Regions from separate parts of the Homo sapiens genome. Here regions 2 and 3 are each linked to region 1. The links come from fine-mapping of genetic effects on gene expression. A gene starts in region 1. Each other region holds a variant in brackets. All regions are shown on one strand. Distances are between the middles of the regions. Region 1 holds the start of MFSD2A (MFSD2 lysolipid transporter A, lysophospholipid). Region 2 holds the start of BMP8B (bone morphogenetic protein 8b). Region 3 has its middle 18 kb from the start of MYCL.

Region 1 (10,558 bases):
CTACAGTGCAGTTGTGTGATCACAGCTCACTGTAACCTTGACTTCCCAGGCTCAGGTGATTCTCCCACCTCAGCCTCCTGAGTAGCTGGGACTACAGGCACGTGCCACCATGCACGGCTAATTTTTAATATTTTTTTGGAGAGACAGGTTTCGCCATGTTGCCCAGGCTGGCCTCAAACTCCTGGGCTCAAGCGATCTGCTTGCCTTGGCCTCCCGAAGTGCTGGGATGACAGGCCTGAACCACAACGTCTGGCTAAATGTTTTCTTTATTCATCTTATTTCTTAATAACCGTTTAAAAATTTCAGTCTTCTTAGGATGAGTCTTTTGACTCTACCTTTTGCCTTTTCTCATTCTCTTGTTAACTAACCTTATGCTTTCATTAGCATCTCTAAGACCCATGAATGGAAGCTGAGACAGCAAATTTGAACTGCTGTTTGATTCTGCAGGAGTAAGCTTACATGGGGTGCCAGTGTAGAAGAGGCTCCTTTAACCACAGCACTTAGCATGACTTGGGTAATGGGCATCTTCAGTGGGTGAATGTCCCTGCCATCATAAAGCCAGTCCCATATGGCTTGCATATGAAGCATATGGGCTGCTTCATCTGGGGTGGTCCCCTTGGCATTTCTAGGTGGAGTTGGACAGTCCCCGCTTCTCAGGGTAAATAGATATTATAGTGGCTTTTATCCAGTCCACTGGATAAAACCAGTCCAAGGCTGGTCATTCCCTCAGAAATACATCTTTTGTGTGTCTGAATCACATATACCCATCTGCCATTGTTCAGTAGTGAGCTGTGGGTCCTGCATCAACCCAAACAGGCTCTTCCACTCCGCAGCAATTAAAACCAAAGATCCTGCTCCTAAACTACTTACTCACAGAATTCATTTTCGTAAAAGTTCCTCAGGAAGCTGATGATAAGGATCTACAAAATGGAATAATTCCTTCACACTATGCCCTCTGGTTTCAATAGTTACTTGGTTTTGCCCTCCTCCCACAGTGATTACTTTCTTGGTAAACACAAGTCTTAGAAGTACTTTCTGTTGTCTCTGCATAATTCTGCCCTGTGGGGGCAGCTTTGAGGCTGGTGGCCTAAATTCAGACTGATTGAGGTCTAAGCTGGTCTAGCACCAAGGTCTCACCCAGCATTCTCTTTTAATTTCACGTTAGCCATTACAGATAATAACCAAGGAACTGAATATTTAGCTTTTTTTTCTTATTAATTTGCATTTCCTTATGCATGTAGTCAATCAACTCCCTGGGAGTTGGAGCCATCTCTAAATTTCCCTGGTATCTTTGACTTTTAGTACCTAATCTAGGTACATACTACGTGTGTCCCTGTGGCTTCATACTATGGGTGAGCACATGGCCACCCAGGAATCAAAGGTTCCTCATCTTTCATCTTTTTGTACTTTCTTTTCCCAAACCACATGTTTCCTTGAGCCTGGATCAGCCCAGAATATCCCACTCCTGACACCAGTTGTTTAGGAAAAACCTCTCAAACTGTGTTTTTCCTCTACTGTCACACCACCATCACCACAATCACCAACATAGAAGAATGATCTGACCACGGGTATGGGTTTTCTTTTTTCCCCCCACACACTAAACAGTGGACACCAGCTGGGTGTCCTCTCATTCAATTCCAACACTACCTACCTGGAGATAGTATCAGATCTCATAGGTGGAGGGCTCAGTTCCCAAGACTGTCTCCTGAACCCTAGACACCAGTCACAACGCCAGGCCTCTGGAACTTCTGACAAGCTGGCTTCAAATTGAGGTTCCCATGATCCCCTCTTTGGGTTGGATTAATTTGCTGGAGTTATTTACAGAAATCAAGGAAACACCCATGTTGACTGGTTTGGGATACTACAAAGGATAAAGATGAAGAGATGCATAAGGTGAGATACGGAGGAAGGCTTGTGGAGCTTCCATGCCTTGGCTGGGACATTACCCTCAGGAAGCTCTGTGTATTCATGCTAGCCAGAAGCTCTCTGAATCCAGTCTTCTCAGAAGTTTTTTTTGGCTGATCTCAGCTCACTGCAACCTCTGCCTCCTGGGTTCTCCTGCCTTGGGCTCCTGACTAGCTGGGACTATAGGCACACACCACCACGCCCAGCTAATTTTTGTATTTTTAGTAGAGATGGGGTTTCACCATGTTGGTCATGGCTGGTCTCGATCTCCTGACCTTGTGATCCGCCTGCCTCGGCCTCCTGAAGTGCCGGGATTATAGGCGTGAGCCACCGCACCCAGCCAATTTTTTTAAAACTTAAAAATTAGACAGGCATGGTGGCACATGCCTGTAGTCCCAGCTACTCAGGAAGCTAAGGCAGGAGGACTGCTTAATATACTAGTCTGTTTTCATACTGCTATAAATAACTGCCTGAGACTGGGTAATTTATAAAGGAAAGAGGTTTAATTGGCTCACAATTCAGCATGGCTGGGGAGGCCTCAAGAAACTCCAATCATGGCAGAAGACAAAGGGAATGCAAGGCATCTTCTTCTTTTTTTTTTTTTATTTGAGACAGTCTCGCTCTGTTGCCCAGGCCGGAGTGCAGTGGTGTGATCTCGGCTCACTGCAACCTCCGCCTCCTGGGTTCAAGTGATACGCCTGCCTCACCCTCCCAAGTAGCTGGGACTGCAAGCGCGCACCACCACACCCAGCTAATTTTTGTATTTTTAGTAGAGACAGGTTTCACCATGTTGACTACCCTGGTCTCAAACTCCTGACCTCAACTGATCCACCTGTCTTGGCCTCCTAAAGTGTTGGGATTATAGGCGTGAGCCACTGCACACAGCTGGCATCTTTTTCACAAAGCAGCAGGAAGGAGAAATGCTGAGCAAAGGGGGAAGAGCCCCTTATATAACCATCAGATCTTGTAACAACTCACTCACTGTCATGAGAACAGCATGGAGGAAACCACTCCCACGATTCAGTCACCTCCACCTGGTCTCTCCCTTGGCATGTGGGGATTGTGGGGGTATGGGGATTATTAGGATATAATTCAAGATGAGATCTGGGTGGGGACACAAAGCCTAATCATATCACTTGAGCTGAGGAATTCAAGGCTGCAGTGAGCTATGATCGTGTGTGCCACTGCACTCCAGCCTGGAGGAGAGAGCAAGACCCTATCTCTAAGAAAATAAAATAAAAATAAATAAAATGAGGGTAATAAAAACAACTCTCTCCAGTGGTGTTGTTGGGACTAAATGAGATATAAAGAAAAAAAAACAGAAGTAAATGAGATAGTATATTTAAAGCACTTATGGGGCACGCTGCCCAGCATACCAGTGGCTGCTTGGTATTTGGGAGCTGTTGTATTGGCGGTGCCGTGATTCAGTTAGTGGTGACAGTGAGTGTCTCTAGTGCTGTGTTATGGGGCTCTGTCCTGACCAACAACATGGCTGGTGGAGTTGAAGTTGCAAGGGACAGCCAGATCTAAATTTAGAGTGAGAGAAAACAGTGAGCCATAGAACCAGCATCCACAACAATTTCGACAGGCTGGAATAAGCAAGATGACATTGTTCTGTTGTGAGCCTCAAGACATTACAGAAAGCAGAGGATCGGGGAGAGACCTGACTTGACCCCAACTCCGGTGAAAAGGATCTGAATGATTTAGTTGACCACAACCTGATGGGAACTAATCATGGGAGAGAAAGGCTCTGAAGCCCAGCAGTCTTAGGCTGCATTAACAATGTGTCGCATCCAGACTGGAAAAAATAATAGGCCTATTGTGCTGGCTTGGTCAGGCCATATCTGGAATCTTGCGTTGCTACACTGACAGACTGGAATCAGGCCAGGAGGGGGACCAGCCCAGCTTCAGCTCCCAGGCACTTGTGCTAAATGCTTCCTGTGCATTTTCTTGTTTCATCCCCAAAACAAATCTATTAGGTAGCTACTATTAATTTTTTTTTTTTTTTGAGACAAGAGTCTTTGTCTGTCACCCAGGCTGGAGTGCAGTGGCACGATCTCGGCTCACTGCAACCTCCGCCTCCTGGGTTCAAGCGATTCTTCTGCCTCAGCCTCCTGAGTACCTGGGACTACAGGTGTGCCCCACCACACCCGGCTTATTTTTGTATTTTTAGTTGAGACAGGGTTTCACCATATTGGCCAGGCTGGTCCGGAACTCCTGACTTCGTGATCCACCCACCTCAGCCTCCCAAAGTGCTGGGATTACAGGCGTGAGCCAGGGTGCCTGGCCAGTAGCTACTATTAATATCACCATTTTACACAGGGAGGTTAACTGAGTTGTTCAGAGTCAGCCGCACAGCTAGTAAATGGAGACACTTAGGGCTTTTCCTAATGGGTTTCTGTGTGCTTGTACCTTAGCAGGGGAAGACTGAACATTCATTCACTGAACACAATAATTCAGGCCCTAAGCTAGTTGGTGGGGACACAGAAGTGAAAAAGATGCGGTTCCTACCTGAGGAGCTCATTGTCAACCGGGGGATACAGATCACTTGTGGTATGGTGTGACTGTGGGAGAGAAGATTTGGGGGCTGCAAGGGAGCTTAGCTAACCAAGCCTGGAGAGGGGAAAAGAGACAGAACAGTGTCACACAGCTTGGAGTAATGGGGCCAGCCATTCCCTTTCCACAGTATTCAGTGCCTCACTTTGGCTCTCTTCTGCTCAGCAATGGCCAAGAGCTGTGTGCCCAGATGGGATCTGCTGGCGTATGAGGGAGCATGGTGTGACCATCCTGGGGCAGATAGACCTTATCTCTCCTCCCTGCAATCAGAGATTTAAAGAAAGGAAGAAGGAGGCTGACATTAAGGAGCACAGGAACCGGGTGGGTAGCCTTTGAGAGTTCCAGCAGCCCCTTCACTAATCAGAGAACTGGAAAGACCGGGGTGACATTGACATAAGGGACTCAGAGGTGGAACTAAAGACTGTTCTTTTCTGGCATCCGTGCCTGCCTTCTGTTCCAAACTAATGCCCTCCCATCTTCTTTTGAGGACCACATTTCTGGGCATTCTCTTTTTCAAAACTTTCCCTGTTTCAACCCTCAGTGCCTCTGGAGCCATGTATCTCCCAGGGCTTCTTGTTGGGAGACACATACACCCCATTCTGCCGTCTGTAATTTATGCTAAGAGGGATAGAGCAGGGCTGTTGAGAGCAACTGCTTTGGTATCGGACAAAACCTTTCAGGCCTGGCTCTGCTACATAACAGTTGCTTCACTTCTCCAAGTTTCCCCTTCCTGTGCTGTAAAATGGGGATAATAATAGTACCACCCTCACTTGGTGGTTTTTGAGGGCCGAAAGAGATCATATTAAGCATGGAGGAAGCTATCCATAAAAAGGCCACTGTTGTCATAGTGTACTAGCGGGCGTAGCCCCGGCTTCTCTCCACGACTTGGGAGCTCCCTTCTGGCAGGGGCAGCCACTGGATTGCCTCATCTTTCTCCCCATTGCCCGGATGCCAAGGGCAGGACGGGGGAATGGTGTGTCTTCGGGGATGAGAGAGAGGCATCAGGAGGGAAAGTGTCAGCGTACGTCCTCTAGGCTTGAAGAAGGAGAGAGGCCCTGACTCCAGATTTTAAAGTGGGCTTCAGAGCCCCTACCTTTCCTAGGCCTGGGGCTCAGAAGTCATGGGTGGTAGGCCCGACTCGGGGAGAGTCGGACCTTGGGGACCTCGGGGACCTCGGGCAGATCGGGGACCCCGGGCAGATCACTTTCAGCCTGGGGCCTCGGTTTCCTCGCGCGTGTCTGGGAGGTCTCGCGGCCTGCTTCTCGGATTGCTAGGAGCCAGCGCAGGCAGATGCCGGTTCCGGGGCTTGGAGAACGTGGCTCGGTGGCACAGAGCCGCCGGGCGAGGCGGGGGCAGGGAGGCGGGCGACGGGATTGGCTGGAGGCGGGGCAGCGGGGCTCGGGGATTGGCCGCAACCGAGAGGGCTGGGCAGAACTATAAGAGGCGCGGAGGGGGCGTGCAGCAGAGTGCGTTCCTCGTCTGCCAGCCGGCTTGGCTAGCGCGCGGCGGCCGTGGCTAAGGCTGCTACGAAGCGAGCTTGGGAGGAGCAGCGGCCTGCGGGGCAGAGGAGCATCCCGTCTACCAGGTCCCAAGCGGCGTGGCCCGCGGGTCATGGCCAAAGGAGAAGGCGCCGAGAGCGGCTCCGCGGCGGGGCTGCTACCCACCAGCATCCTCCAAAGCACTGAACGCCCGGCCCAGGTGAAGGTGAGGGCCCGGCACCCCGCGTGGAGGGCGAGGGGAGGGAGGAGGCGGAAATGGGGGATCAGGGGCGTCCCGGGGTCGGCCTGGTCAGGGGACCATTGGGATAGCCAGGGACAGGAAGCCTACGAGCCAGAGAGGACCTGGGGGTGCCCTGGGACAGGGGGTGACGGAGAAAAGCTGTGGGCGCCCTCGCCCCCCTTTGCTCACCCGCACTCCACGCTCTGCGGAGAGGCTCTGCCGGCAGCCCCATGTGATTCCCCGCTCTGCCTAGCCGGTTTCCATTCTTCCGTGTTGAGCGGCTGGGGCTTGCCGCCCCAAACCCCAGAGATGACCCCAGAAATCTGGGAAACTCCCCTTGGTTCCCCATCTCTCATCCCCTACCTCCCACTCCACCCACCTACTCTTGCGCCTCAACTCTGCTGTTAGGGCCGCTCAAGTTCATTCATAAGAACAAGAGCTCTGCTCTTAAAGGAGCCGCGTCCCTCAGGCATTTGTCTGAATGTGGATGTTCGCGCGGGAACGGTGCTTTGCGCATCGAGACCATCGACCACATCCCCAGCCCTGGGGACTTATTGAAGGACCAAATAAAATGAGGCGGCCCCCTAGGAAAGGATCTCAGGCAATAGATACCTTCGTGGGAGGTGACTGCCTTTTCCTTTTAATTTTATTAACTGATCTTTGGAAGGAGCTGGGTGAGCAATTATGCTGTTACTATGTATGAGTAATATCTACTTTCCCTGGGCAACCCAACCTCCCTAGTGCCCCACCCGGAGAGGGATCAGGCCTGAACCTGGAGGCCTTTCCTCCCGTCTCCAAGGTCCTCTAGGAGCTCAGGGGTGGAGGGCGATGGGTCGGGAAGCTGGAGAGTAGGACAGTTCCTGGGTCCGCCTGAAGCTCTGGCTGCCTATAGTGGTCAGGGATGCTCTGGGATAGGTGGAACAGCTGCGCCTGCAGCCAGCTGGGCCGGGCCCCCGTAGCTCTCTAGAGCTCTCACCAGGAGTAGGCAGGTGGATCCTGTCTCTGAGGCAGGGTGGGAGCCTGGGCTGGGCTCAGGCAGCTCTTGGCAGCAAGCGGATTTTCAGGTTGTGGCAGCTGGTGCCGGGTGGGGACAGGTCGGCTGCTGGAGCATGCTCCCCCTGAAACCTGGAAAGGAGCAGTGCCTGAGGCCTTGGGAGGAGTTCTTTAGGGATGGTGGGCTGATAAGTTTCCTTAGAATCTCCAGGAGGGAGGTGGCTTAGGGGCTACTTTCACACAAGTATGGATTCCCCTTTTCCATGTTCCTAAGAATGGAGAACACCTTTCTTTTGTATAAAGTGGGATCTCGGAGATCGAGACCATGCTGGCTAACATGGTGAAACCCCGTCTCTACTTAAAATACAAAAAATTAGCTGGGTGTGGTAGTGGGTGCCTGTAGTCCCAGCTACTTGGGAGGCTGAGGCAGGAGAATGGCGTGAACCCAGGAGGCGGAGCTTGCAGTGAGCCGAGATGGCACCACTGCACTCCAGCCTGGGCAACAGAGCAAGACTCTGTCTCAAAAAAAAAAAAAAAAAAAAAAAAAAAAAAGGTGGGATCTCCTGGATAGGAACAGGTCAAAGCAGAGTTGTTTGTTCTGGTAGAGCTGGCCAGAGGGATGGTCCTTCCTGTGGAACCTTCTTGGATGGAGGCCAGAACCTTGGGCCTTTCATCTTTTCCTCCTCTTCCCAGAAAGAACCGAAAAAGAAGAAACAACAGTTGTCTGTTTGCAACAAGCTTTGCTATGCACTTGGGGGAGCCCCCTACCAGGTGACGGGCTGTGCCCTGGGTTTCTTCCTTCAGATCTACCTATTGGATGTGGCTCAGGTGAGTGGTCTAAGCCTTCGAGGGCTCCTTCAGCATCCTGAGGTGGGAAAGACTATGCACCCCTGGGTCAGTTCGCTCAGTTTTCCCCATCTGTGAAATGGGACCCCAAATCACTACTTTGCTGCCTCTGAGTCAGTGAGCAAGAAATGAGAAGACCCTGGAAAGTATCCAGTAAAGGAGTGTCTCCACTCCAGGAGTCTTTGCTGGAAAGGTCTGGCAACTCCTCCTTGCCTGGCATGAGCAACAGAGCCTGAAGGGGTAGGCGGTAGAATGAGGGAGAATGGGGCCTGCTGGGGATGCTGTTCTTAGAAGAGACTGGCACACTGTGTTCCTGGCTGGGAGATAGTCAGCTGGCTTGACTCAGGGGTTGGTGGCTGTTGCCAGGCTTGTGGATGAGATGCATCCCACCTTTACCTGAGGAGCAGAAGGGCACTTAGGTGCCAGGCTAAGTTAGAATGCCCCAGTACACAGGGTCTTTGACTGGGAGGGGTACTTAGGGTGAAACAGGACTATTCTGTGCATTGAGAAGCCTTGGCCAGAAGCCTGGCATCCTGAGAATTCACCCTGTCTGGATGGGAGAGTGGGAGGCAGAATAGCCATGACTACCGGGGCTCCTGCACCAGCTGTCTTCTCTGTGTAGCATCTAACTTGGCAAGCATCGCATCTTAGTTGTATCCATTTACAGAGGGGGAACACTGAACTCCAGAAGGAACAAAAAACTTCAGCAGCTAATTTTTGAGTAACTCCCATGGGCTGGGCCTTGGGTGGGGTGTAAATATGAGGAACCTGCAGTCAAAGTGTAAACCTGTTGTAGTGGGTGTTAGAGCTGGGGTTGGGGGGTTAGACTAGGGAGACTATGGTATGGGGAAGAATACCCACTCCCCAGAGAAATAGCAATAGCAGGGCTTTGATGGATAAGGAGGAGTCTGGAGAGTCTGTATTTAGGGCCTGGGGGGTTTTGGGGCGGGGAGGGGGATAACTTGAGTGGGTAGTGACAAGTCCCTTTTTAAAAAGCATCTATAGGCTCCTTTTTCCACATCCAAGATAGAGCTTGAACCTGTAAGGTAGAGCTCATAACTCCCATTATACAGATGGGAACACTGAAGCACACTGTGTTCACCCCGTGAATGCTCATTCTGATATCAGGTGGTCAGGAGCTCAGGGCTGAGAGAGGGAGGGAAGGAAATGTTTGTGGATTCATTTGAATTGATGGGAATGTTTTCAAGGGCAGTGGAGGGAAGCAATTAAGGAGACAGAGCTGGGAAAGCTTCTAAGGAGGCACCCAGTGCTACTGTTATTGGAGAAATGCTATTGTCATTATTAACAAGGCAAGTGAAGATGTGTAAGGTCCATGTGGGAGCAGCTCAGGGTCACAAGATCCTGGCTGAGATAGGGAGGGAGCCTCTGCTTCTGCCTACCAGTGAGAGTTGAGGCGAGTAGAAGGATGAGGAAGTTGTCTTTTGCTTCTCCTCATTCCAGGTGGGCCCTTTCTCTGCCTCCATCATCCTGTTTGTGGGCCGAGCCTGGGATGCCATCACAGACCCCCTGGTGGGCCTCTGCATCAGCAAATCCCCCTGGACCTGCCTGGGTCGCCTTATGCCCTGGTGAGTAGAATATGCCCCTTCGAGGTGGCACAAGGCAGGACTTCCAGCATATCTGCTCCTTGGTCCTTCTCTCTGTCTTGTCACAGGCAGAAGGGTGAGGAGAAGGAAGGAGTTAAAAGCCCAAGGGTGTTGAAACCCCATCCGAGGCATCAGCTACCCTGAGCACGGGCACTGGCATGCTCAGCCAGTTCATTTCCAGGACAGCCAAAGTGCTAGGCTGGGCAGCTCAGGCCTCATTCCTCCCCAGGGTCCACTCATTCCCCTTGGTGAAGCTGGAATTCTGAATTCTCCCACTCTATCACTTCCTGCAGTGGCCGAGGTAGTACTTAAGAGTGGTTAAGCAGTTGTACTCTGGAGCCAGCCTGCCTGGGCTTATTTTATTATTTTTATCTTTCTTTCTCTTTCTTTCTTTCTATCTTTCTTTCTTTTTTTTTTTTTTAGAGACAGGGTCTCGCTCTGTCACCCAGGCTGGAGTGCAGTGGTGTGATCATAACTCACTGCAGCCTAGAACTCCTGGGCTCAAGTGATCTTCCCACCTCAGCCTCTCGAGTAGCTGCGACTACAGGCACGTGCCACCACACCTGGCTAATCTTTTAAAATTATTATTTGTAGAGACAGCGTCTCACTATATTGCCTAGGCTGGCCTTGAACTCCTGGGCTCAAGGTGTCCTCCCGCCTCAGCCTCCCAAAGTGTTAGGATTACAGGTGTGAGCCACCATGCCCGGCCCCTGTCTGGGTTGAAATCCCAATTTCCCTACTTAGAGCTGAGTCACTTCACATCTCTGAGTCTCAAGTTTCTTCATCTAAAATGGGGATAATAGTTATACCTATCTCACACTCACAGAGTTGTGGTGGATTAATTTTTTTTTTTGACGTTCTTAGAACAGTGCCTGACTTAATTCTACTTCATAAGGTTGATGTAATTTTGAGACTTAAATAAGTTGATACTAAAA
Region 2 (10,558 bases), 170 kb before region 1:
TTAGATTAGAGGCCCGTGTCAGATTAGAGGCCTGTGATGTGGATGTTCACACTTGGGGCCAGTGTGAAATGAGTGGCCCTGGAGTTCAATGGGACATATTGGGATGGGGGTCACCCGTCAACAAGGCCCTCCTATCAACAGACACCCGAGAATGCCCGTGAAGCCACCTTCCTCCAGGCAGGGCCCTGTGGGGACTTGGGGTTCCAGGGGAGGGCCCAGGGAGCTATGGCACCCATTGTCGGCCCGCACACAGACAGGGAGGGCCGGCCCTACTCTGTCCCACCTGACCAGACCCAGGCTCCTCCCTGCTCTTGGCACTCGCTGCCTCCTGCTGGGTTCCTCTTTCCCTCAATTTCCTGCCACTCAGGGGCTGGGTGCACCATGGGGGGTGCCAGGAAGAGTCACACTTGGTCCCTATTCTCAGGTTGTTCAGAGGTTGCTGGGGAGGAGGAGAAAGAGGGGCTAGGTGAGCCCCTGCATCACATAGACAGAAAGCGACTGGAATCCTAAGAGAAGTGCACACAATGCAGGACAGGTGCTTCAGTGACGGTCGCAGTCACATACAGGGCTTTGGAAGAAGGAGGCAGAGAAAACTTTCCTTGAAAACATATTCAAGAGGGGTGGAAGAACTGAGGAAGAGAACTGAAGAGTCACCCAGGGAAAGGCTGAGAGGCGGGAGATGCTGTGCCAGGTCACACTTTTTAAGCACTGACCTGTGTCAGGCACCATGCTGGGCACACGTGGTACGTCCTTTCTGTTCATGCTAACCTGACTGTGTTAGTTGTCTGTGGCTGTGTAACTCATTATGCAAATGTAGCAGTTTAAAACAACAAACACATATTGTTGCACATTGTTCTTAGGGCTAATAATCCAGGAACTTAGCTGGGTAGGTCTGGATCAGGGTCTCTTATGAGGTCACAGTCAAGCTGTCAGCTAGGGCTGCAGTCTCTGAAGACTTAGCTGGGGCTGACGGATCCACTTCCACGCGCTGTCTTTAGCTGCTCACCATGTGGCCCTCTCCATAGGGCTGCTCACCTCATGGCCTCCCCCAGAACGAGGCATCCGAGAGATGGAAGCCATGGTCTTTTATAGACTAATCCTGGCAGGGACCTATCACCACTAGTGTCATATTCTATTGGTCACACAGACCAGCACTGGCACAGTGTTGGAGGGGACACAGAACTCTGTGCATCTCAGGAAGTGGGACCATCGAGGGCCATGGTGAAGGCGGCACCATGACAACACTGTGGGGGACATTATTCATCCCAGGTTATAGATGAGAGCACTAAAGATCCCAGAAGTTAACTGATTTGCACAAGGCCACAACTGGAAGCATCCAAGGTGGGATTTGGGTCAAAGTCTGTCTGGACTCCAAAGTCTACATTCACTTCTCCTAATCCACGACCTCTCCAAGCTGCAGATATGTCAAGGGAGCACCAAGCGGTGCAGTTGACTAGAACGCTGAACTCTGAATGCCAGGCTGGGGAAACGTGAATTCCATTCTGGCTTGAAGGGACACACAGAAGCTCCTGAGCAGGAAAAGCCATGATGGGATTTTCACTTCAGGAACTGGCATTTCAAAAACATGCAAGAGGCCAGGCGCAGTGGCTCACGCCTGTCATCTCAGCACTTTGGGAGGCCAATGTGGATGGATGGCTTGAGCCCAGGAGCTGAAGACCAGCCTGGGCAACATCATGAGACCTCGTCTCTATAAAAAAATGTTTAAAAATTATCTGGGCATGGTGGTAGGCACCTGTACTTCCCAGCTACTTGGGAGGCTGAGGTGGGAGGATCACTTGAGTCTGGGAGGTTGAGGCTGCAGCAAGCTGTGATCGCGCCACTGCACTCCAGCCTGGGTGACACAGCGAGACCCCATCTCCAGCCGGGAGCCATGCCTCCTCTCCTTTGGCCTTGTTTGTCTCCCAGAAAACGAGAGAAGGATCTTGTCGGTCTTCTGAACTGTTGAACCCTCACACCCATGTTTGCCAGGTGGGTGAATGGACATTTCTTCCATTTGGGGATCATTTATATTGAGTTGTCTTTGGGCTTCTCTTTCTCAGTAAATGAGCAGACTTTGGGTTGGGCTGGGGCTATACTTTTATTAGCCCCCAAGATAAACAGGAAGAGGAACAGCACACAGTAGGTTTGCAGCAGTGCTTGCTAAGGAGTGTTCATAGACTGCTCTTAAAGCCCTGAATGAGTCAACTTTCTCCACACCCAGGTCTTGCAGCCATCAACTTCCCCAGAACCCTGATGTGTGCAGGGTCCAGGACTGTTCAGAAGGAACGGCTGCTACTCAAGATAGAGCCAGCAGTTAAAGGAAATCACCAACTTTTGCTTCTGGTCTTGCCACTAACCAGCTGGCCTTGGGCTAAAAACAAATAAAGCTGACATTTATTGAGCACTGACCAGCCACTCTTTTCATAATTTTACACAGATTAACTCATTTAATACTCCTAATCATCTAATGAGGTAGCTCTCCCATTTTACAGATGAGGAAACTGAGGCTCAGAGCATTAAATAAATTAGACCATAATCGTGTAAATTGTATCTTAGGTTAGGCTCTCTGGGCAACAGACACTGGGTCGGAAAGTTTACTGGGAAAACTGGAAAGTTTACTGCTTTTTGTAGTGAATGAAGGGAGCAAGTTTTGGATGCACCCACAACAAAGGCCTCAGACAACTGAGACCACACTGGGAGCTCTGGGGGCTGGTGGCCCTTTAGAGCTGTCTCTCTTTAAGGCAAGGGGGCTGGGCACTGGTACTGCCATAGACCAGCTGTTGGATGGTGGGTGTCCCCAGGGATGGTGCCTAACCTTGGGCAGTTCTTTAGGCCCAGTCAATCAATACCTAGAGAAGGGTAGGGCGTGGTGGCTCTCGCCTGTAATCCCAGCACTTTGGGAGGCTGAGGTGGGTGGATCACCTGAGGTCAGGAGTTCAGGATCAGCCTGACTAACATGATGAAACCCCATCTCTACTAAAAATACAAAATTAGCCGTGCGTGGTGGCGGGTGCCTGTAATCCCAGCTACTTGGGAGGGTGAGACAGAAGAATTGCTTGAACCCAAGGAGGTTGCAGTGAGCCAAGATCGCACCATTGCACTCCAGCATGGGTGACAAGAGCAAAACTCCATCTCAAAAAAAAAAAAAACAAAAAAAACCTAGAGAAGGACTCCCCTGTGAGCTGTCAGCAGCCGGCACTCCAGGCAGCTGGGTCACGAGCGACTCAATGCTGAAGAGAAGCTCTGGGAAGCCCCCCACAGCATCCACTACAAGGATGCCTAGGTGGAATGAGGATCTCACCCAGGCAGCCTGGTCAGATTCTGGAGCTATGCTTTTTACTACTCTGCTCTAGGTCCCTAAGTAAATGACTGGGGGATGGGGCATAATCCGCAGGCCCTTCCCTCATAATACAGCCACTTATTGAGCAGTGCCAGACACTTGCTTTGTTTTTGTTTTTGTTTTTTTTTGAGATGGCATTTCGCTCCTGTTGCTCAGGCTGGAGTGCAATGGCGCGATCTCGGCTCACTGCAACCTCCACCTCTTGGATTCAAGCAATTCTCCTGCCTCAGCCTCCCAAGTAGCTGGGATTACAGGCGCCTGCCACCACAGCCGGCTAATTTTTGTATTTTTAGTAGAGACGGGGTTTCACCATGTTGTCCAGGCTTGTCTTTAACTCCTGACCTCAGGTGATCCGCCCCCGCTTGGCCTCCCAAAGTGCTGGGATTACAGACGTGAGCTTCCGTGCCTGGCCAGACACTTGCTAGGTTTTTATGTGCCTTAACCTATTTAATCATTGTATTATGATACAGGCATTATTATTATTATTTAGACAGAGTCTTGCTCTGTCTCCCAGGCAACCTCCATCTCCCAGGTTCCAGCAATTCTCTCGCCTCAGCCGCCTGAGTAGTTAGGACTACAGTCCCGCGCCACCATGCCTGGCTAATTTTTTTTGCATTTTTAGTAGAGACAAGGTTTCACCATGTTGGCCAGGCTGGTCTTGAACTCCTGACCTCAAGTGATCCGCACACCACCACACCTGGCCGGATACAGGCATTATTATCCCAGTTTTAAAGATGAGGAAACTGAGATGCCGAGACTTTAAATGATCTGTTCAACAGCTCATAGCTCTTAAGCAGTAGACTCAGAATTGAAAGCCAGTGAGCCCCACTCCAGGGTCACTAACCACCACTCTGCTGCCCCACTTCCAGGGCCTACCCTCCTACAGCTGTGATCTACCTTTCATATCTGCTCCTGTGGGTCTGTGCATCCAGGACCCGGGGCCAGTCACTTACACTCTTTGAGACTCAGCTTCCTCCTCTGTGAATGAGGGCAGTCATAATCATTTACTCAGGGGTGAGAAAACACTGCGGAAATGGGTAGGACCAGTCACTAGGGATGGAAAGGGTGCACCATTCTGGTGGCCAGACAGAACTTTGGGGAAAAGGGACCCACCTTCAATTATTGCAAGGACAAATACCTTTGGGCATACAGTCACCCTAATAGTTGACTTTTAAGATGGATAAAAGATTTATTGTTAAATGAAAAACAACAAAGTTGCAAAACAGTGAGCATTAACGTA[T/C]GCAGTTAAAAAAAAGAAAGAAAAGAAAACGCTGGGCACAGTGGTTCATGCCTGTAATCCCAGCACTTTGGGAGGCTGAGGCAGGAGGATCAGATGAGGCCAGGAGTTTGAGACCAGCCTGGGCAATATAATGAGATCCCGCCTCTACAAAAGATTTGAAGCAATTAGTTGGACATGGTGGTGCACACCTGTAGTTCTAGCCATTCAGGAGGCTGAGGTGAGAACATTGCTTGAGGCCAGGAGTTTGCAGTTGCAGTGAGCTATGACCATGCCACTGCATTCCAGTCTGGGTGAAAGAGCAAGACCCTGTCTCTGAAAATAAAAACATATTTTTTAAGCAGTAGTCTCAGTTTACATCACACGTTCCCATTCAACACAGTCCATTTCAGCAGCACACACTGCATTTAACGGTGGGCCAGGCCCTGGGCTGTGTGGAGAGGCAGCTGCTATTTTGGAGAAGAGCAGAAGATGTGGAGGCAGGGGGACAATCTGCTGTGTGGCCTTAGGAAAACCACCTATCTGCTCTGAGCCTCTCTCTCCTCTCTTTCAAACACAGATGTGACGGCAATTGTGAGATACCAATGAAGGAAGAGATGCAGAGGTTCTGGGCACGTGGGCATCGCTGGGTATCATCTCACACAAGCCCACAACAGCCCCATAAGATGAGTATCTCCATTTTACAGAGGAGGAAACTGAGGCTTGGGGAGGTTGACTGGAAAGCCCAGATCACACTGAGATCAGGTGTTGGCGTCAGGATGCAAATTCCTTGTGTGTGGGTCTCAGGTCAGAAACCCCCAATCTAGCCCTGTCTGTCCTGCCATTGTTCAGCCCCTCCTGTTTCCCGATGGGGCGTTGCTGTCTAGCACACCCGACAATTACCTTTAGGGCTCATGTATGTATTATGTGTCTCTAGACTAGAAAGTCATCTCCCTGAGGGCAGGGACTTTACTTCTCTCATTGTTATATCCCCAGCAACTAGAACTCTGCCTGGTCCGTGGTAGGTGCTACAGAACTATTTGCTGAATGAATGAATGGGAAAATGAAAGAGGTCCCTGGTAAAGAACCAAAGGAAGTGGCCCTGGGGCCCACGGAGATGGTGCCACCCTTCTAGGTCACACGGCTGGCAAGGGCAGAGCAGGACCCGGGCCAGGTCCCGAATTCCCACTCAGTCCTGCTTCTCCCAAATCCAGACGGCTCTGTTCATCAACACCCCTGTCCATGGCCACCGGAGACCACAGGAGCAAATCTGTCTGGTTCAGGAAGGGATCAGGACAAAAATGAAGCTGCCTGCATTCTGATCCTGGCTGGACTTCTGCCTGCTAGGCCTGCTTATGCCTCAGTTTCTCAATCTGGAACATGGGCACCTGCCTCTCTGCTGAGATGGGTGGAGAAGGATTCAGAAGGAGTGTGCAGAGGTGGTCCTTCCTGCCATCCTTCCTCCCTCAGGAGGGGCCGGGCTGCCCTGAGGCACTGGGGCCAAGGCATGGCGGTGTTGTGAGAAGGCGCCTCTGCCACAGAGCCACAGGGTCAGGGCTGGGAGGCACCTTGCTTTTCTGATGCCATCACCGTAGAATGGACGAGAAAGCAGAGGCCCAGGGAAGGGAAGGGCCGTGGCTCAGGACATGCAGGAGTTAATGGTGGGCCCAGGCAGCACAAGAACCTGGGTCCTGCCTCCCAGCTCAGGGCTCTCCCCTCCCTGAGCACAGAGAGACCAGGGACAGAATCCAACCGCTCCATCACTGTCCTGCCCAAGAGAGCCCAGGTCTACAGGCTGATATGGATGACAGGCCAGGCAGGGCCCCGGCTCTGACCCCAGCCCTGGCCTCCCAGTGCAGGCTCTGAACATCAGGACGCAGGCTTGGCTTCCTAAAGCACCTGCTCTGCACGGAGACCTGAGCCATGGTGGGAGGCCTATGAGAGCCCCGCCCCCTGGGTCCCACAGGCTGCCATCAAGAGTTGGGCCCTACGGGCACCAGACCTGGCTATTCAGGAGTCAGATGAAGCTGATAGGAGAGGTGGAGCCGGCAGGAGCAGGTGTGGGAGCCTGCGTGTGGGCGGTGACACCACAGTGACCCTGCTATTAGATCCCGTGGTGGCCTCTGCCCACATGACTGTAATCTCAGCTACTCGGGAGGCTGAGGCAGGAGAAGGGCCACCAACCTCCAGGGGCCTCCAAACATGGAGAGCATCCTGGTATGTGTCTAATCCATGCCCCCCCACCGCCCCACCCAGCCTCAGTAATTACCAGTTAAAGCTACTCTAACTGAGAGAGTTCTACTAGTGCAGTTAGCACAGCAGAATAAAGAAGGCCTTTCTGACAGCTGGCTGCGCCCACCCACAGCCTGGGCTTCCACTAACAATGATCTGCTTGTTAATCTCGCAGCGCTGGAGGCCCCAAGTCTTCATGAAATGCACAAAGCTGGTGTGGGAAGAAGCTGGGATTTGAAATCCACAGCCGTGGATGTCACCCCGGATGTGCGGTGTGGCCCTGGGCTGGCTATTTAACCTCTCTGAGCCCATGAAACAGGGCTGGCAAAACAGTCTCACATGAGTTAAATGAGGAATTGTAAGGCTGTGAAAGTTCACATGCTACTTTTCATTCTAAAAACAGGTACAAACACTTTTTGATTGGCTTTTAGAATCCATTTCTAGGTTTTACATGTGTATAAGACATGTGGAGATGTTCCTGTCACCTCCGAACTAGGCCACAGCTGGGAGGGCCTGGGGCCAACAGTGCCCAGGTCCAGGTTCACCCTCTGAGGGGAGCAGCACAGGCTTTCTACTCCTGCCCCTCTACCAATCACACAACAACCCTGAGGACAGATCACCAGGCACCTCATTTTACAAGGAGCAACGAAGGCTGAGAGGGTGAGGAACTTTCCTAAGGTCACACAGAGGGGTAGGCCCTGCCCAATTCATAGCAATAGCCCCACCAGGCTGTGCATGCCTTGACCCAGGGGATGCCAGGGGAGGTCGGATGTGGGCTGGGTGGTGACGCATTCTGATGGGCGGCTCCCTGGGGACATTCTTGGACGACTCCATCCACAACTCTTCTTGGTCCTGAGCCCAGTGTCAGCCTGTCCTGATGACAGAGCCCCAGCCCCAGCTTCACAGATGGTCTCCTCTGTCCCACATCCCCACCCTGTCCTCTAACTACAAAGGCAGCATCCAGATCCCACCGGCTAGAGTCCTGTCCCTGGCACTGGGCGCTCAGTGATGGTGAATGGCTGCCTCCTGCTGCTCGCCTCCACCACCAGCTCTGGGTTGCGGGAAGCAGAGGCTTGGCCATGCCCTCTTCTGTCCTAGTGTAGGAAGCAAATGGCTGATGGCCCCACAAAACCTGCTGCGGCTCAGTCCCCTGTTTTCCTCAGCCCAGACTCCTCAGAAAGGTCTCTGCACCTTGAAAGCCTGACCTGACAACAGAAATGTCATCTCTTTGAGCCCTGGATGGACAGTCAGGCTTCCTGGGCCTGTCCTGGCTCAGCAGCGTAGAGGCTGCGCTGTCCTAGGCATGGCGCTGCCTCTCTGAGCCTCACTGTCCTCATCTGGGAGATGGGGATGAAGACCGTGGCTGTTATCAGGGTTGTCGGGAGGATGAAGAATTAATGATGCTGTCTGTGGAGGGAGGCTGATGGCCGGGGCCAGGGACCCTCTCCCTCCTCTCAGCCCCACAGCTCCCCGACTTTGGGCTGATCTGTGGTCCTTGGTTCCCCAGACCCCAGACTGTCACTAGCCACAGACAGGAGGCAAAGCAGATGGGTGACCTGACCAATAGTAACTACATGACCATAGACCAAAGAGTTTAGTACTGGAAAAAAAATCTCTGAGATCTTAGGGAATAAATAGCTCCAGGGTTTGATACAAGATATTTGCAGACAGGAAAAGCCGGGCTTTGCCTGGGAGAACAAAGTGGGTCCAGCTGCCCACTGGACCATTCCACAGGACTGGACACTCACCCCATACCAGATCACATCCCAGGTGTTGGGCCCAGGGTGACAAGGCAACAGTCCCTGCCCCAGCGAGCTGAGTTTGCTCCTTCCCCAGCCGCCCCCCTGACAGCCGCACCCCACCCAGGCTCCGCACAGAGAAGAGCCTGCTGTGGACTCAGGGCACGCGACTCAGCTCTGGTCACTCCGATGTGACCACAGGTTTCCACGCTGAACTTTGTCCCTCTCCTCAGTACTGCCCTTATCACAGTGACAGCATCCCGGCCTCTGTTTACTCACCTGTCTCCCCAGGACCAGGCTGTCTTCCCGGGGCAGCCCAGGTGGGCAAAGACATCACCTGATTCTTACTCCTGGGTGTGTTTGGGGCAGGGTGAAGGCAGCGCCTGGGAGTCCACAGTCCCCCACACTCTGCTCCTGACCACCCCGCAGCCCAGGGGGCCCCCATGACCCTTAGACCTTCCCTAACCACGGCGGTCCCACTCCCCTGTGGTTCGCGTCCACCGTCTGTGACTCCCCGTTCGGCCAGGGCCCGGCACAGCCCGCGGATGCGCGCCCCTCCCCTGCAGCCAGCTTACTCCGAGGGTCCCCGCGCGGGCGGCCGCACTCACCCATGTTAACGAAGCTCATGACCAGGTCGGCGCGGCCCAGGCGCCGCTCCGCGGGCGCGCCGTCCTCGTCGTCGTCGCCGGCCATGGCGTGGTACAGGTCCAGCATGAAGAGCGGCGCGGACGCGGGCAGCCGGGAGGCGGCGGGTGGCGCGCGGGGCCGGGGCCGCCCAGGCAGCCCGAGCACCGCCAGGATCTCGCGCTGCACGTCCCGGCGCTCGCGCGCGCCCAGACGTCGCTGGGGACAGCCGGGCGGGGGTCGCAGGCCGGGGCCGCCCCCGCCCAGCGCGCATAGCGCCAGGCCCAGGAGCCAGAGCGGGCCGGGGAGCGCGGTCATGGCAGGCCGGGGGCGCTCAGCTGGGGCGCTCAGCGGGCGCGCATCGGCTCCGCGGCCGACCCAGGGCCTGGGGACGCCCCGACGGCAAGGAGGCTGGGCTCGGCGGGCGGCGGGCGGCGGGGCGGGGCGGGACGGGCGGCGACCGCGGCCTCAGCGCGGTCCCTGGAGCGCCCGCCGCGCGACACCTGTCCTGGCTCCTGGACGAGAGGACGCGGACGCCACCGCCTCGAGGCCGGGGCTACTCTGCGGACTGGGACTCTCGGCCAATCCGTCTGTCGCCGCCGTACCCGCCAGTCCGGCTGTGGCCGCGGTCCGAGCAGCGCAGGGGCGATGGGCGAGCTCCTGCAGCCACCCGCTTGGTGCGGTTCCCGCGAGTCCCTGCCCTGCCCTGCCCAGCGGTCCGCGTCGCCCGCCCCCACCCCGGGACTGACCAATGGGGGGGCGGGGGCGGGGCCTGGGAGCGGGGGCCACGCCTGCGAGGGGGCCCGGGGCTGCGGCCGGTGTCGCGGGTGGGGAGACCCCGAGGTGCTACCTGGGCGTGGCGGGTGGGCAGGCGGCCCGGGCGAGGGGCTCGCAGCCTGGGCGTCAGCGTGGTCATGGCCGTCGTGGCTTCCGCCGCGGGCCTCGGCGCAGAGATCCTAGGGCCGCGGCGCCCTTCCGGTCCCGCCAGTGGTGCCACCCGGCCGCCCCGCCGTCGCGTGCGCGGGTCGCCATGGCATGCTGCAGGCGCCTCCTTCCCGGCACCTGCTCAGCTGCTCCTCCCCGCGCCCCCACCTGGCTCCCGCGTGAGCCTGGGCAGCGCCCCAGGCAGGCCGCCCCCGCCAGCCCTCGCTGCGCGGCGTGCGCCCCCTGCGCCCCCAGTACTGATCCAGCTTCGCGGGGGAGACGCGCACCCGCCTCCTGCCTTTAGCCGGGCCAGGAGCTCTGGGGCCCTTCTGGAGCACCCGGGAGCCACCTGTGCACTTCTCAGTCGCCACGGCCCCGGTGCAGGCCTGGCAGGAGAAGGATCCCCGCGGAAATGCCTCTACTAACTCAGCCCCTTTCTGCACTCTCTGCTCTTCTCTGGGCGCGCTCTCGCCTTACTTATTC
Region 3 (10,558 bases), 35 kb before region 1:
TTTTGTTTTTTTTTTTTTTTTTTTTTTTTTTTTAGACAGGGTCCCACACTGTTGTCGAGGCTGGAGTGCAATGGCATGATCTCTGCTCACTGCAACCTCTGCCTTCTAGTGGGCTCAAGCAATCCTCCCACCTCTGCCTCCTGAGTAGTTAGGATTATAGGCATGCACCACCAAGGCTGGGTAATTCTGTATTTTACCAATTTATTTTATGTTATTATTATTATTATTATTTGAGATGGAGTTTCGCTCTTGTTGCCCAAGCTGGAGCGCAATGGCATGATCTTGGCTCACTGCAACCACTGCCTCCTGGGTTCAAGTGATTCTCCTGCCTCAGCCTCCAGAGTAGCTGGGACTACAGGCGTGTGCCACTATGCCCGGCTAATTTTTGTATTTTTAGTAGAGGCAGGGTTTCACCATGTTAGCTAGGCTTGTCTTGAACTCCTGAACTCATGTGATCTGCCCGCCTTGGTCTCCCAAAATGCTGGGATTATAGGCATGAGCCACCACACCCGGCCTATTATTATTTTTTGATACGGAATCTCGCTTGTTGCCCAGGTTGGAGTGCAGTGGCATGTCTCAGCTCACTGCAACCTCTGCCTCCCAGGTTCAAGCAACTCTCCTGCCTCAGCCTCCTGAGTAGCTGGGATTACGGACACATGCCACCACATCCAGCTAATTTTTGTATTTTTTAGTAGAGACTGGGTTTCACCATGTTGGCCAGGCTGGTCTAGAACTCATGAACTCAGGTGATCCGCCTGCCTCAGCCTCACAAACTGCTCTGATTACAGGCATGAACCACTGTGCCTAGCCCTAATTTGTGTATTTTAGTAGAGACAGGGTTTCACCATGTTAGCCAGGCTGGTCTGGAATTCCTGACCTCAAATGATGCGTCCACCTTGGCCTCCCAAAGTGCTAGGATTACAGGAATGAGCTACCGTGCCGGGCCTTCTTGTGGTTTTGAGTTGCATTTCTCTAACAACTAATAATGTTGATTATCTTTTCATGTGCTTATTGGCTGTTAATATATCTTGTTTGGATAAATGTCTATTCAAATCCTTTGTCACTCCCCACTTTTTTTTTTTTTTTTGAGACAGGGTCATATTCTGTCACCTAGGCTGGAGTGCAGTAGCACCATCACAGCTTACTGCAGCCTTGACCTCCTGGTCTCAAACAATCCTCCCCGTTCAGTTTCCTGAGTAGTGTAGCTGAGACCACAGGCATGTGCCACCATACCTGGCTTGCTTATTTATTTATTTGAGATATTGTCTCGTTCTATGGCCCACACTGGACTGCAGTGGCATGATCATGGCTCACTGCAGCCTCTACCTCCTGGGCTTAAGTGATCCTTCTACCTCAGCTTCCTGAGTAGCTGGGACTAGAGGCCAGCCACCACACCCAGCTAATCTTTTTTTTTTTTTCAACACACAGTCTCACCCGGTCGCCCAGGCTAGAGTGCACTGGCTCTATCTTGGCTCACTGCAACCTCTGCCTCCTGGGTTCAAGTGATTCTCCTACCTCAGCTTCTCGAGCAGCTGGGATTATAGGTGCATGCCACCATGCCCGGCTAATTTTTGTATTTTTAGTAGATACCCAGATCTTACCATGTTGGCCAAACTGGTCCCCAACTCCTGACCTCAAATGATCTACCTGCCTCAGCCTCCCAAAGTGCTGGGATTACAAGTGTGAGTCACCATGCCTGGCCCCAGCTAATCTTTTGATCTTTTGTAGAAAGGAGGTCTCTCTATGTTGCCCAGGGTGGTCTTGAACTCTTGGACTCAAAGGGTCCTCCTGCCTGGGCCTCCCAAAGTGCTGGTATTATAGGTGTGAGCTACCACACCCAGCCACCTGGCCCATTTTTAACTGAGTTGTCTTTTTGTTGTCATGTTGTAAGAATTTATTATATAGTCTGGATACTAGACTCTTTTTATAAAATTTTATATATTTTTAAGAGCCACTCAGAGCTCAGTGTCAGTGGGGATAAAACTGGATACTAGACTTTATTTTTTTCTTTTGAGGTGGTGTCTTGCTCTGTCACCCAGACTGGAGTGCAATGGCGTGATCTCCACCTCCCGGGTACAAGTGATTCTCCTGCCTCAGCCTCCAGAGCAGCTGGGATCATAGGCGCCCACCACCATGCCTGGCTAATTTTTTTTTGTATTTTTAGTAGAGATGGGGTTTCACCATGTTGGTCAGGCTGGTCTTGAACTCCTGACCTCAGGTGATCCACCCGCCTCAGCCTCTCAAAGTGCTAGGACTACAGGCGTGAGCCACCGCGCCTGGCGTTCCTTTTTTTGTGTGTGTGCTCGTAAATTAAAACAATTTCTTCTAATCCACTTGCTGTCATTTTAGTGGAATTTCAGGAGTGGAGATAAGCACATGTGAACAATCTTCATATTTAGCCAGAAATTTGTTCTTCCATTTATTTATTGATTGATTGAGATAGGGTCTTGCTCTGTCACCCAGCCTGGGGTGCAGTGGCACAATCTTGGCTCACGGCAACCTCCACCTCCTGGGCTCAACGGTTCTCCCACCTCAACCTCCGGAGTAGGTGAAACTACAGGCACACGGAACCACACCCGATTAATTTTGCATTTTTAGTAAAGACAGGGTTTCACCATGTTGGCCAGGCTGATCTTGAATTCCTGGACTCAAGCGATCCACTTGCCCAGGCTCCCAAAATGCTGGGATTACAGGCATGAGCCACTGCATCTGGGCTGTTCTTCCTTTTAAGCTGCAACAATTTCTTTTCTTTTCTTTTTTCTTTTCTTTTCTTTTCTTTTTTTTCTTTTCTTTTCTTTCTTTCTTTCTTTCTTTCTTTCTTTCTTTCTTTCTTTCTTTCTTTCTTTCTCTTTCTCTCTCTTCCTTTATTTCTTTCTTTTCCTTCCTTTGATGGAGTCTCGCCAGGCTACGGTTCAGTGGCACGATCTTGGCTCACTGCAATCTGCACCTCCGAGGTTCAAGCGATTCTCCTGCTTCAGCCTCCCAAGTAGCTGGGATCACAGGCATGAGCCGCCATGCCCAGCTAATTTTTGTATTTTTAGTAATGATGGGGTTTCTCCTTGTTGACCAGAATGGTCTCGATCTCCTGACCTCGTGATCCGCCCACCTTGGCCTCCCAAAGTGCTGGGATTACAGGCGTGAACCACTGTGCCCGGCCAACAATTCTTATTTTCATTAGGCAGATTCCTGATCCAGGTTGTCTGAGAGGGCTTTCTGGAGGAGGGAAATTTGATCTGATCCATAAGATGTCTAGGATTTTAGTGGAAGTAAGGAGGTGAAGAGGGGAGAGGAGGAGAAAAAAGATTTAGGGAGGGGAGAGTTAGGAAGAGGAAGGGCTCTGGAGCTGGCCCCAGAAGAATTAACCAGGTGTAAAATCTGGTTTCTTATCCTATATCTGTGGCTCTGTTACCTTGGCTTGGGTTTCACTGCAAAGCTGTGCTTTCCTTAGAACCCTAAGGAATGTGGCCTTGCTTTAAGTTCAGTGAAAAAGGGGTTCAGGAGATCTTGTGTCTCCCTCTGCAGCCAACCTGGGGAAGGGACCAGGCTTAGAGAGAAAACAGCAGCTTTCAAGAACAGGCCAGGAGTGGTGGCTCCCGCCTGTAATCCCAGCACTTTGGGAGGTTGAGACAGGCAGATTACCTGAGGTCAGGAGTTCCAAGACCAGCCTGGCCAACATGATGAAACCCGTCTCTACTAAAAATACAAAAATTAGCCGGGTGTGGTGGCGGGCACCTGTAGTCCCAGCTACTCGGGAGGCTGAGGCAGGAGAATTGCTTGAATCTGGGAGGCAAAGGTTGCAGTGAGCCGAGATCACGCCATTGCACTCCAGCCTGGGTGAGAAGAACAAAACTCCATCTCAAAAAAATAAAAAAAAAAAAATAAACAGAAGTAGGATGAAGGAAAAACTACTCTGAAGCAGTGTTACGGTGAGCAGGCTTGTACTGACCCTTAGTTTTCTCATCTCTAGAGAGGTTTTTTCCTATCTAGCAGCATTATTGGAGAATTAAATTAAACTGCAAAGTTTTAGCACAGTGCCTGGCACAGAGGAGAATTCCAAAAATGTCAGTTTTCTTCTCTTCTTCTTTTTGTTTTTTTAATTTTGAGACAGAGTCTCGCTCTGTTGCCAGGCTGGAATGCAGTGGTGCGATCTTGGCTCACTGCAACCTCCGCCTCCCAGGTTCAAGGGATTCTCCTGCCTCAGCCTCCCAAGTACCTGGGACTACAGGCATATGCAACCATGCCCAGCTACTTTTTATATTTTTAGTAGAGATGGGGTTTCACCATGTTGGCCAGGATGGTCTTGATCGCCTGACCTCGTGATCTGCCCACCTCGGCCTCCCAAAGTGCTGGAATTACAGTTGTGAGCTGCCGCACCTGGCCTGGACATTTAAGGTAAACAATCTGGGTAAGGTCCCAATCAAGGCCCTCAAAGCCTGGCTAAGGAACTTGTACTAAAGCTGAAAGCATTGGAGAATCATAGGAGGCTTGTGAACGGAAGAGTGACAGATATATCTGTGCTTTGGAAAGATCACTTCTGGGAGAAAAGAGTCCTGGTGTAATGCAGGATGCAGCATCCTGAGCCCCAGATCTGCATCTAACAGACTCCATGGTTTCATCTTTGCCCAACACATGAATGGCCTCCATCAGTGTTTCCCCAGTGGGCTATGAATTGTGTGAGAGCTTGATTCCTAACACAAACTGAATCTTCCAGTTTACCTTCTCAGAGATAGAGCTAATTAATTGCAGGGGTCAGGGTCAGGCGGGGTATTCCCCAAACCTGAAGG[G/A]CTAATATAGCCAGCCTGAGCTGCCACACAGAGGATGAGATGGGATTTCTGAGCAGCTCTGGAGATTGTGATAATGACTAAAGCCCAAGGAGGCCCTCCTGGCACTCCCCCTCACGGGGACATAATACTAAGTGACTTGTGCTTGAGGGCAATTGTGAGACTGTTATGTACCCTTTTTAAGGTACTTTTTTTTTTTTTTTGAAGTGAAAGCAAGTTTATCAAGAAGGCAAAGAAATAAAAGAATGGCTATTCCATAGGCAGAGCAGCCCCTTAAGGTCTTAAGGAGGATTGATGACAAACTTCCTCCGCACCCTTCTTAAGGTGCTGAGCTCTGGGCACAGGTGGAGCAAGATAATCACCTGGAAATAACAATTCTGTCCACTAGAGGGAAACCCAGTCTAGAGAGATGGGGAGGGAAACCCAGGCTAGAGAGATGGGGAGGGAAACCCAGGCTAGATGCGTGGGAGCCCTGAGGCTGGAGGAAACAGAAGGAGCTGACGGCCCCAGGAGCCAGTGGACCCAGTGATCTAGGTTCAGTGCTGTGCTGGAACTGGCTTGTATCAGCTTAGTGAGAATTGACTCTTGCATTTTCAGGAATCTTGAGAGCTGGTTGGTAAACTTGGTCATTAAATATTAAATTATAGCTGGGCACGGTGGCTCACACCTGTAATCCCAGCAATTTGGGACGCCCAGGTGGGAGAATCGCTTAAGCCCAGTGCGAGACCATCCTAAGCAACATAGGGAGACCCTTGTCTCTACAAAAAAATCAAAAAATTAGCCAGGCATGGTGGTGTGCACCTCTAGTCCCGGCTACTCAGAAGGCTGAGATGGGAGCATCACTTGAGTCTGAAAGGTCCACGCTGCAGTGAGCTATGATTGCACCACTGCACTCTAGCCTGGGAGACAGAGCAAGACCATGTCTCAAATTTAAAAAAGAGAGAGAAAAAAAAAAAAAAAGGCCAGGCATGGTGGCTCACGCCTGTAATCCCAGCACTTTGGGAGGCCAAGGCGGGCGGATCACGAGGTCGGGAGATTGAGACCATCCTGGCTTACGCGGTGAAACCCCATCTCTACTAAAAATGTAAAAAGTTAGCCGAGTGTGGTGGCAGGCGCCTGTAGTCCCAGCTACTCGGGAGGCTGAGGCAGGAGAATGGTGTGAACCTGGGAGGCGGAGGTTGCAGTGAGCTGAGATCATGCCACTGCACTCCAGCCTGGGCAACAGAGCAAGACTCCGTCTCAAAAAAAAATAAATAAAAAATAAAATTAAAATTAAAAAATAAAAATTATAATGTGTCATGGAATTAGGGCACAAAATTAATAAAGTAAAAATTAAACTATATAAATTTACATTTAAATAAACTATATTGGCTGGGCATGGTGGCTCACACATATAATCTCAGCACTTTGGGAGGTCAAGGTGGGCAGATGACTTGAGCCCAGGAGTTTGAGACCCACCTGGGCAACAGGGTGAAACCCCATCTCTACAAAAAATACAAAAATCAGCTGGGCATAGTGGTGAGCGCCTGTAGTCCCAGCTACTTGGGAAGCTGAGGTGGAAGGATCACTTTAGCTTGAGAGATCGAGGCTGCGGTGAGCTGTGATTGCGCCACTGCGCTCCAGCCTAGTGATGGAATGAGCCCTTGTCTCAAAAATAAATAAATAAAATAAAAATCAATCCCTAATTATTTTATTATGTTTTACTATTATCTGCCTATCATATCAGTTATGGTGAAAGTACTATGTAGTGGTTTGCTACTGTCCAACTTCAACTTTGATTTTTTGTTTTGTTTTGTTTTGTTTTGTTTTGTTTTGAGATGGAGTTTCATTCTTGTTGCCCAGGCTGGAGTGCAATGGCGCGATCTTGGCTCACTGCAACCTGTGCTTCCTGGGTTCAAGTGATTCTCCTGCCTCAGCCTCCCAAGTAGCTGGGATTACAGGTGCCTGCTGCCACACCTGGCTAATTTTGTATTTTTTTAGTAGAGACGAGGTTTCACCATGTTGGCCAGGCTGGTCTCAGACTCCTGAGCTCAAGTGATCCACCCGCCTCAGCCTCCCAAAGTGCTTGGATTACGGGCGTGAGCCACTGTGCCCGGCCCAACTTCAACTTTGGTAGCTTGCAGTTGGTCATGGCAGATTATTTACTTCATGGAAACCCACAAATGCTACAAATCAGGGTTCCCCACCTCCTGCCGCCCACCTTCCAGTTTGTTAAACATTTGCCAGGCTATCGCTGCTTAGGCATCCCCACATCAGGTGTTATGGGGAGGACATGGAATTTTCCAGAGGTCTTGCTGACACAGACACACTCAGAGATATCCCTGTGGAGGGAGCACCCCATTTCAGCTGGTAGAAGTTGTTGGGGGCATCATGGGAGCATTGTTGTGTTGTTGCAGGAACGTGACCTGGAAGTTCCCACCCTGACTCCAGCTTTGCGCAACTGTTCCATCCACCGGAAATTGGTCTATACTTAAGTGCTCAGGCATCCCTTTCTGTCTGCCTAGCAACGAAGTAAGGTTGGTGATCATCCAGTGCTAGAACGATCATCCCCCATCAGAAAGGAAGCTTTATGAAGGGCAGGGAAGCCCCCACCTCGGTTCATATCCTCAGGCCTGGCTCAAGTCCCTGGGCCTAAGTATTGGAGCCGCCACACAGAAAACCCAGGAACAAGCAAGACACTGGAGTTAGGCACATCTAGGCTGCGCCACCCCTAACTGTGTGACCTGAGAAAGGCACCTAAACCAAACTGGTCTTGTCTCCTAACCTGTCAAATAGGGAGATTCCTGCTTATCATGCCTGACCGTGGTGAAGATTAAATAGGATCATCCATGCAAAACTCTCAGCTGGGCGTTTCCATCACCTAGAAGGTGTTCCATGATGTCAAAGCTATTATTGTTTTCATACTTGGGATGGGGAGTGCCGAATTCAAATCGGTTCTGAGTGCGGGTCTACTCTGACACCCTGTGTGTCAGAAGGAGGGGCGGGACTAGGAGGCAACAAATCCATTACAGCACAGTTGGCAGATGTGTCCAGTCACACAGCCGGGAAGTGGACCAGGGACTGGACAGCAGCCCTCCGCCCAGGACTCGGCCAGATGTTCCAAGCCTAGCAAGGGGCGCTTCTACCCCCACCCATCCTCCCCGACAACCTAGGCCTGTGGCTTGGAGGAGGCAGAGGTGGGGGTCGGCAGCCGGACGTCGCAGGCCCCAGGCTGCGCGCAGGAAGCGGCTCCAAGGTTGTCCTAGAGCCTCAAAGCGGCGGAAGGGAGGGAGCAGCCGGCACCTGCATTGTGCGAGCCCCGCTCCCCGCTGAGCTTCTGTGACCTCTGGCTCGCGCTCTTGGCATCCGCTGCTGGGGCAGGGCCCGCGGCTTTCAGACAGGTATTAACCGGGCAGAGGATACTAGATCTGCGCTGGCTTTCATTCATTCACGCATCCACTCATTCGTGCATCCATCAGTTATCGAGCTGCGGCAGGAGTTAGTGCACAAAAACATAGTCCATGATCGCAGGGACCATACTCCTGCTAAATCATGGAGGTTTGGGGAGTTCCTTCAGACTCTCAGTAAACTTATTCGTGGAGGTCTGATTTTTTTTTTTTTTTTTTTTTTTGAGACTGAGTCTTACTCTGTCGCCCAGGCTGGAGTGCAGTGCCGTGATTTCATTTCACTGCAACCTCTACCGCCCAGGTTCAAGCGATTCTTGTGCCTCAGCCTTCGGAGTAGCCTAGCTAATTTTTGTATTTTTAGTAGAGATGGGGTTTCGCTATGTTGGCCAGGCTGGTCTCAAACTCCTGACCTCAGATGATCCGCTCGCCTCAGCCTCCCAAAGTGCTGGAGTTGGTTACAGGCATGAGCCACTGCGCCTGGACTGATTGTCAACATTTAAAAGTTATGAAATTTCATTTAAAACTCAGATTTTGGCTTCTTTTGAAGGGATTGAAGATCTGAGATGCTTGTGTTATATAAGTTGCTGATGAGTGTCATGCTAGAGAGGGCCGGGTGCGGTGGTTCACGCCTGTAATCCCAGCACTTTGAGAGGCCAAGGTGGGCAAATCACCTGAGGTCAGGAGTTCGAGACCAGCCTGACCAATATGGTGAAAACCCGTCTCCACTAAAAATACAAAAATTAGCTGGGAGTGGTGGTGCACACCTGTAATCCCAGCTACTCGGGAGGCTGAGGCAGGGGAATTGCTTGAAGTCGGGAGGCAGATGTTGCAGTGAGCTGAGATCACCCCACTGCACTCCAGCCTGGACAACAAAGTGAGACTCCGTCTCAAAAAAAAAAAAAAAAAGAGTGTTATGCTGGGGGCAAGGGGCTTTTTAAAATAATGTAATACATTATTTTAAATATTATTTGTAGCCTCTTGCAAAGTGGTGTTAGTTGTACAATAAAAAACTCTTAGACAATTTCCCTGTTACAAGGGTCTGAAAAGCAAGTTTATTTTGAAAGGCGGATATTTTATTTAGTTGTGATTTTTTTAAATTTAATTTTATTTTTGAGACAGGGTCTCATTCATTAATTTTATTTTTGAGACAGGGTCACCCAGGCTGGAGTGCAGTGGTGTGATCTCAGCTCACTGAAACCTCCGCTTCCCGGGCTCAGGCAATCCTCCCATCTCAGCCTCCTGAGTAGTTGGGACCACAAGCACACACCACTACGCCTGGCTAATTTTTTGTATTTTGGTAGAGACAGGGTTTCACCATGTTGCCCAGGCGGGTCTCAAACTCCTGAACTCAAGTGATCTGCCCTCCTCGGCCTCTCAAAGTGTTGTGATTACATGTGTGAGCCACCCAGCCCAGCCTTATTTAGTTATGATTCTTGATTGCCTGATTTTTAAAATGTTGCTTTCTGGAAATAATCTCCTTCTCCTTCTCCTTCTTAACAAGGTCTTGCTCTGTTGCCCAGGCTGGAGTGCAGCTGTGCCATCATAGCTCACTACAGCCTCAAACTCCCTGGCTAACTGATCATCCCACCTCAACCTCCTGAACAGCTGGAACTACAGGGATCTACTACGTTACCCAGGCTGGTCTTGAACTTCTGGGCTCAAGCAATCTTCCCACCTCAGCCTCTCAAATTGCTGGGATTACAGGCGTGAGCCACCACACCTGGCTCTGAGACATCTAATGAAAGATTTCTCAAACATGTCAGAATGAGCTGGTTATGCCATCTGAGTCCCCTGAACCAAGGAAAAGATTTGTAGGCCTTTAGGTTTGCATAACTGGAGGTTAGAGGGCAGAAGTTAGTAACTGGGTGGAAGAAGTGTTTATCTCACCTGAAAGTAGAGTGGAGATGGAGAGAAGGGGCAGACAGGGGACAGGTATTTAGAAGGAAGAACTGATAGGATGTGGGGTCTGGAGGAGAGAGAGGAGACAAGGTTGACTCTTGGGTTTCTGGCCTGGGAGAATGGGTGGAAGGAGGAGCCATTCACTGAACTGAGGATCCAGAGGAGGAGAATGGGCTTGCTTTTAGCTATGTGGGGTCTGCAAGTCTGGGTCAGCAATGAGGAGATCAGTGGAATATTGGGGCTCTGGTGCTCAGGAGAGGAAGCTGGGCTTAAGATTCACCATTGGTAAGACAGAGGCTCTGGGGAGTGGTAAAATCACCCTCACTGAGCTGTCTGCAAAGAGCCAGAGGCCTAGGATGCACAGTGAGGATCCATTTGTATTTAAGGGATTAAAGATGTGTGGCCAGGTGCGGTGCCTCAGGGCTGTAATCTCAGCACTTTGGGAGGCTGAGGTGGGTGGATCACCTGCAGTCAGGAGTTCAACACCAGCCT

The links. PIP is the estimated chance that this variant, and not a neighbour inherited with it, causes the effect. A credible set is the group of variants that fine-mapping cannot tell apart.
Region 2: its variant is the best candidate, but not a certain one, in a credible set for the expression of MFSD2A in whole blood (TOPMed, PIP 0.87).
Region 3: its variant is the best candidate, but not a certain one, in a credible set for the expression of MFSD2A in whole blood (TOPMed, PIP 0.77).

Annotation. Positions count from the first base shown.
Region 1 is chr1:39,949,221-39,959,778 of GRCh38, forward strand. It overlaps MFSD2A (MFSD2 lysolipid transporter A, lysophospholipid), which reads left to right and starts at 5,925. Exons shown (of 14, transcript NM_032793.5): 1 at 5,925-6,165; 2 at 7,867-8,001; 3 at 9,481-9,605. The coding sequence starts at 6,073. RefSeq lists a silencer at 5,747-5,876.
Region 2 is chr1:39,779,017-39,789,574 of GRCh38, forward strand. BMP8B (bone morphogenetic protein 8b) reads right to left here and starts at 9,849. Exons shown (of 7, transcript NM_001720.5): 1 at 9,136-9,849. The coding sequence starts at 9,469. It overlaps BMP8B-AS1 (BMP8B antisense RNA 1), which reads left to right and starts at 953. Exons shown (of 2, transcript XR_947220.3): 1 at 953-1,989; 2 at 2,222-2,408. It overlaps LOC101929536 (a long non-coding RNA gene), which reads left to right and starts at 9,960. Exons shown (of 1, transcript NR_135805.1): 1 at 9,960-10,558. RefSeq lists enhancers at 1-228, 9,955-10,456 and a silencer at 9,801-10,400. The variant T/C (reference allele first, on the strand shown) is at 4,581.
Region 3 is chr1:39,914,512-39,925,069 of GRCh38, forward strand. No RefSeq gene overlaps it. Among named protein-coding and RNA genes, the nearest start is that of MYCL, 18 kb to the left of the region's middle. The variant G/A (reference allele first, on the strand shown) is at 4,785.